2 separate regions of the Homo sapiens genome follow, and region 1 is linked to region 2. Evidence: fine-mapped expression QTL. A gene starts in region 2. The other region holds a variant in brackets. All regions are shown on one strand. Distances are from middle to middle. Region 1 overlaps CHST15 (carbohydrate sulfotransferase 15). Region 2 holds the start of CHST15 (carbohydrate sulfotransferase 15).

What was found. PIP is the estimated chance that this variant, and not a neighbour inherited with it, causes the effect.
Region 1: its variant is fine-mapped to the expression of CHST15 in whole blood (TOPMed, PIP above 0.99).

Annotation. Positions count from the first base shown.
Region 1 is chr10:124,035,960-124,038,862 of GRCh38, forward strand. It overlaps CHST15 (carbohydrate sulfotransferase 15), which reads right to left. Exons shown (of 8, transcript NM_001270764.2): 5 at 2,556-2,712. Among named protein-coding and RNA genes, the nearest start is that of CHST15, 56 kb to the right of the region's middle. RefSeq lists a silencer at 212-261. The variant T/C (reference allele first, on the strand shown) is at 1,458.
Region 2 is chr10:124,092,025-124,094,927 of GRCh38, forward strand. It overlaps CHST15 (carbohydrate sulfotransferase 15), which reads right to left and starts at 1,574. Exons shown (of 8, transcript NM_001270764.2): 1 at 1,445-1,574.

The sequences.
Region 1 (2,903 bases), 56 kb before region 2:
CCCGACAGATGGGCCCCCACCTCTCTGTGCCCAGACAGTACACAAGGCTGCTGTGTGCACTCTCGGCCCCTGAGGTTAAGGCGTGGTCTGACCTTTCTCAGAATGAGGAACTAAGCAGCAGCGACAGGAAAACATTTGATGAGCACACCGAGCACTTGCGCCCTTCAGCTGGGGGCCGTGTCGGGGAGGGAGGCAGAGCAGCTATGCAAACACCTCCGGGGGCGGCGAGGGGTCAGCTCGAGGTGACAGTTATGTCACCATGAGAGCTCGGCTAGTGTGCGTCAGCCCTGCTGGATGGAGGGAGACCACTCAGCAGGGCCGATTTCTGCCTCCAAAACACGGGAACCAGCAGGTGGGACATGGCAAGGGACGGCAAGTCAGTGCCTGCCTCAGAACAGAGTGGAAGAAGTCCTGGGCTGGGAGATGCAGAGAGCAGGGAGCGAAACCACACCTGGCACCTGCTAGAAGGCATGGCACCGGGACAGCCACCAAGAGCTCAGGCTCAGAGCGCTGGGGCTGAGGGAGGGCAGATCCAGCCTCTCCCTGACCAGGTCATACTCAGAGCAGCGGGAGCCATGCAGACTCCACAAGAGGGACATCAGCTCAGAAGTGTGACCAGAGCAGACTTTAAAGCATGTTTCTGGGGGGCAACAATGCAAAGTGAAAGAAGCAGGACATAAGACTGTCCTGTCACACCCATGTGCACACACACACACACACACACTTATTTGCATAGAAAAGTCTGGAAGAAAATACACCAAAACATAAATAGTAGTTATCTAGGTGAGAAATTAATAGTTTGAAAACAGTTTTCCAATATATGTTCCAAAATTTCCACAACAAACACGCCTTATTGTTATAATTGGCAAATACGTGGGGCCAGGAAGGTATGCCACCTGAAGAAGGGGTCCCAGGGGTCAGTTTCCCGGGGCTGCCAGGACAAATCACCACGAACTCGTGGTGCGTAATGACAGGACTTTCTTCCCTCAGTGTCCTGGAAGCTGGAGTCTGAAACCCAGGTGTGGGGCAGAGGTGGTTCCTCTGGGATGCCAGGGGAGAATCTGTTCCACTCCTCTCCTGGCTTCTGGTGGCTGCCGGCACTCCTTGGCACCCCTTGGCTGGTGGCAGCATCACTCCAGCCTCGTCAAGAGGCATGCTCCCTGTGTCTTAGGGTGGGTGAGGGTCTACCCTGATCCAGTATGACCTCATTTTAACCGGAGTGCATCTGCAAAGAAAGATCCTATTTCCAAATAAGGTCACAGTCATACACACTGGGGGAGACAACTTCAGCTTATCTTTTTGGGGGGCACAATTCAATCCATAAGAAGATGTAGTTGGCCCAAAGGAAAATAAGACACAAAGGGCTGTGGTCCCTGTCTTTAAATATCGCCAGCCTCTCCTGTTTTGGAAGGATTAGACTTGGTCTGTCTGACTCTATGGAGAAGAAAGAGGACCAA[T/C]GAGTGGATGTTTCCCCAAAACAGACCTGGTCTCAAAATAGGAACACAGCTGTCCTAAGCTACACTGGCCATCTTGCGCGGAGAATTCCCTGACTCAGAGGGCCTCGGATTAGACAGGTGCCCCCTTAGCTCTGATGTGGAAGTATTGGAGGGAGCACTGGACCAAATAATTTTCAGGTCCTGGCAGCCCTGAGATTCTGCATTCACACAGGCATAAATGATGCAAGCAGTGCCCAGTGCCAGCCAGGCCGCCCCATAGTGGCTGTTCAATATCCCACTACCCTGGCCTCACCCACACTGGGAAACCCTTGATCTTAAAGCAAAGCTGCTCTGCTCAGCATTGTTCTTCCTTTTGGTCTCTCAAGGAAAGCTGGAAACTGTACATTCAACGCAGACAAGGATAAAGGCATCAACCACGTGGAGAGACACAGAATTCTAGGAGTTAAACCACGTGGAGAAGCTTACACCCCTGATTCTAAGGGTGTTTCCCTCGCCTTGACAGTACCAAGGAACCGTCCTGTGCCCCTGGTCAGGCCTGCTGGGGCTGAAGTCACACAGACCAGGATCAGAATGGTTAAGAAAACCATCTGCAACATGTGTCAACTCAGTGGGGACAGCCTCAAGAATAACACTTACGTAAGAAACAGCAGTAACGTTGCAAGTTCCGTTTATTTTTGTTTGTTTTTATTTTATTTTATTTTTTTTTTTGAGATGGAGTCTCACTCTGACACCCAGGCTGGAGTGCAGTTGCACCATCTTGGCCCACTGCAGCCTCCGCCTCCTGGATTCAAGCGATTCTCCTGCCTCAGCCTCCCGAGTAGCTGGGACTATAGGAGTGTGCCACCACATCTGGTAATTTTTGTATTTTTAGTAGAGATGGGGTTTCACCATGTTGGCCAGGCTGGTCTTGAACTCCTGACCTCAGGCGATCCACCCACCCCGGCCTCCCAAAGTGCTGGGATTACAGGCATGAGCCACTGTACCCGACCTGTTTAATTTTTTCTAAAGGAGACAAAATCTTATTTGTCATGAGAGGGGAACACTGTTCTTCAAAAGTTCCTCTTCTCACCCCAAATACAACACACAGAAACTGCTCACCTCTCCACAGGGTCCCTGAGCATGACAATCAGTCTGGCATTTGGCTGAAAGGCGTGGATGAAGTCCTGCGTCAGAAACGGTGGCTCGCCATCCGTGCTGTTGTCGTAGAAGAACGTCCAGGCATTATTATCCCACATCGTGGAGGCACTGGCCTCCCCTGGAAACAGAAAACACTCCAAGTGAGCAGGGGTGTGATTCAGGCTCCCACGGAGTGGCTCTAGGTGCCAGAGGCCACACCTGGCCCCGATGCCTTCCTCTTAAGCAGCGGGAGAGGCCAAGCTGTCAGCCTTTGCGGGCATCTGGGACTCCAAAGAGAGAAGGTTGGATGCCCCCCCCTGCCACAGCCAC
Region 2 (2,903 bases):
CGCCGGCCCATCGGTTGCCTGGAGGAGTCGGGAAGGTGCTTCCACGGCTCTTCATTCATTTTCCCAAAGGCAAGGTTCCCTTCGCCCCGGCGCCTCTATCCTGCCATCCCAGGGGGCCAATTGCGCCACAGCCCGCCACCCAGCCACCCACAGCCACCGCGTCCTATCTCCCGGCACACACAACCCAACAGACTCGCATTACATCTCCACCGCCAGCGTCGCCTCCGCGCCCCGGCCGCTGCCATCCGGCTCCCCAGCTTCGCCGCCCCGCAGCCCCGGCTCCCCGCCTCTGGCCTCACCGCGCGGCTCAGAGCTGCCTCGCTCGGCTCGCCGCACCAAGGCCGGCCAGAGACGCCGCCACCGCCGGGAAGCGCCGGCAACTCCCGAGTCACGCCGCCTCCCGAGACGCGGCGGGGCGCAGGGAGGGGACAGCAGTGGGGGCGGGGCGGGGAGGAGGAAGGAGGAGGGGGCGGGGAGCAAAAGTTCACACCGCTCGGGGCTCAGCCGCTCCCCTATCTCTTCCCAGGCCCGCCCCCGCCATCCCCCTTCCCTGAACCGGGTCCCACGGGCTTAGGCGCGGGAGAGCTCTGGCCTCCCCGCCCGGAACCGCCGCAAGGCTAGAGCCAGGGTTCTGGAAGCGCATCCGAGCTCGCAACCGGGGAGAGAGTGGCGGATGCCCACTTACCTGCCCCGGGCCGCGCCTGGAAACTTCCCCAAAGTGCGATAGGGGTGTGGGGGCGGAGCGCAAGGCTGGGGGGAATCCCCGTCCCCTACCGCCAAACGACGCGCGCTCACACCGTGAAAGCACTGGTCTGTCCGTCGGTCGGTCCCCCGCCTGCGGCTCCCAGAGCTGGGCGGTGCAGGGGCGCCCCGATTCCGACTACTGGGCTCCTTCTCCCGGACAGCCCGCCGGTGCGTTCCACGCGGCTTGCGCCCCCCGCCGGCCTCCGGCTATCCACGGCGCCACCACGCCACTGCTCGGTCCCCTGTCCCCTCGCTCCGGCCGCGTCCTCTCTGCGAGGGAGGGGGCGTGTGTCGCCGCTGGGTAACCCTTCCCGCGGGGTCCTCAAGCGCGCAGGGCGCCCGGAGCGCGGCCAGGACCAATGGCGAAGGGACTCCTCCCGCTGGGGATCGCTGAAGCCTCGGGGAGGCCGGGCCAAGGAGCCCGGGGCCCAAACCTGCCTCGGCTCGTCGAGCTCGCAAGTTCATTGTCTGCCTGGGCCGCCGCCGCCACCGCCACCGCCACCACCGCGCCGGGAGCGCCGCGGGGAGTGAGGCTGCGCGCCGCCTCCGCCGGCCCGGACTCCCTACGCCCAGCCCCGGCCGCCGCCGGCGCTGCCTGGCCCGAACCCGCGGAGGGGCGCCGGAGCCCCGAGCCCAGGGCCAGACCTCCTACCGCCGCTCCTCGCCGACCCCACCTCGGCGTCTGGCACCTAACTTGTACCTGAGAAGCCTGAGTCCAGCCCGGGAGCCTCTGCGGCTCCGGCTCCGCGGGAGCGCGCCCAGCCCCGAGCCTCTAGCCCCGCATCCAGGGCGCGTCAACCTGACTCCCCGAGCGCTGGGAGGAAAAGTTTGGGAGTGACGTGCAGACGGCGAATGAAACATCCGAGGAGAACCCTCCCCCCGCCCCATGTCGCGCTGACACACATCAGCTCCAGTCTGGAATGTGAGATCAAGGCGTGTGCGCCGAGCGGTGGGTTTGGCCCCTGCCCCCTCCCCCTCCGAGTCAACACTGCTTGTGTGTTGCGGTGATTCCAAATAAAAGCACATCGAAACCCCTGAAATCTGGCAGTGACACCTTGCCAGATACTTCTTTTTTTTAAAGACAGAGTTTCGCTCTTGTTGCCCAGGCTGGAATGCAATGGCGCGATCTCGGCTCACTGCAACTTCCGCCTCCCGGGTTCAAGAGAGTCTCCTGCCTCAGCCTCCCGGGTTCAAGAGAGTCTCCTGCCTCAGCCTCCCGAGTAGCCGGGATTACAGGCATGCGCCACCACGCAAAATAGGCTAATTTTATATTTTTAGTACAGACGGGGTTTCTCCATGTTGGTCAGGCTGGTCTCGAACTCCCGACCTCAGATGATCCGTCCGCCCCCCCAACCCAAAGTGCTGGGATTACAGGCGTAAGCCACCGCGCCCGGCCGCCAGAGACATCTTTAAGGAACTTGGCGGTCTGGAGCCAGCCCGTACATTAATATTCAAGGCCACAGCGCTGGTGAGTTCGGCGCCCTCTGTTGTATTTTTGCATCCCGGGAAGGCTGGCCCGGCTCTTTGGCCCGGCGTGTTTTGCTTCCGCGGGGGAGGTAAAGCTCTGCAGGACCCCGATCGCCACGGCCTGCCGCAGTGGCCTGGAGTCGGCTGCCCCAGGGAACCACCTGGACAGCCCGAGGGCAAGAAAGCGGCACCAGTGGCCGACTCCACTGACTCTGGGCTGAAGATGCCATCAGTTAAAGAAAAGACACATGAAATTCTGGCAGATTCGCTCAGAGGGCGCTTGGAGCACCAAGCCCAGCCTCTCAGGAAACTGAGGTCCAAGGGACAAAAAGAATCTGCAGTCTCTTGCCGGCCTGTGTCCCCGTGGCCAGAGTCCAGCACCCTCTTCCTCGAAGCAACCAGAAGTGGAAATGAAAGTGCTCCGTTAACTGTAGACTACATGCCACCGAAGGGTCATTCCTGACAGTGGCTTCTCCCCATTATCTCTTTATTGCCGGAGGCTTCATCTCGCCCCCCTGAAGCTACAGTCCACCCTGAGGTCATAAACTTCTGCTCAGCACCCATGGCAACTAATGCAGAGGTCACCATCAGAGGATTATAACTGCAGATGGGAAACCGGGATGAGAGGGGAGTTCTTTAAAATCCTGTCTTGTTTTCCTGCAAATAATGCCTCTTACATAAAATCTGCGAAG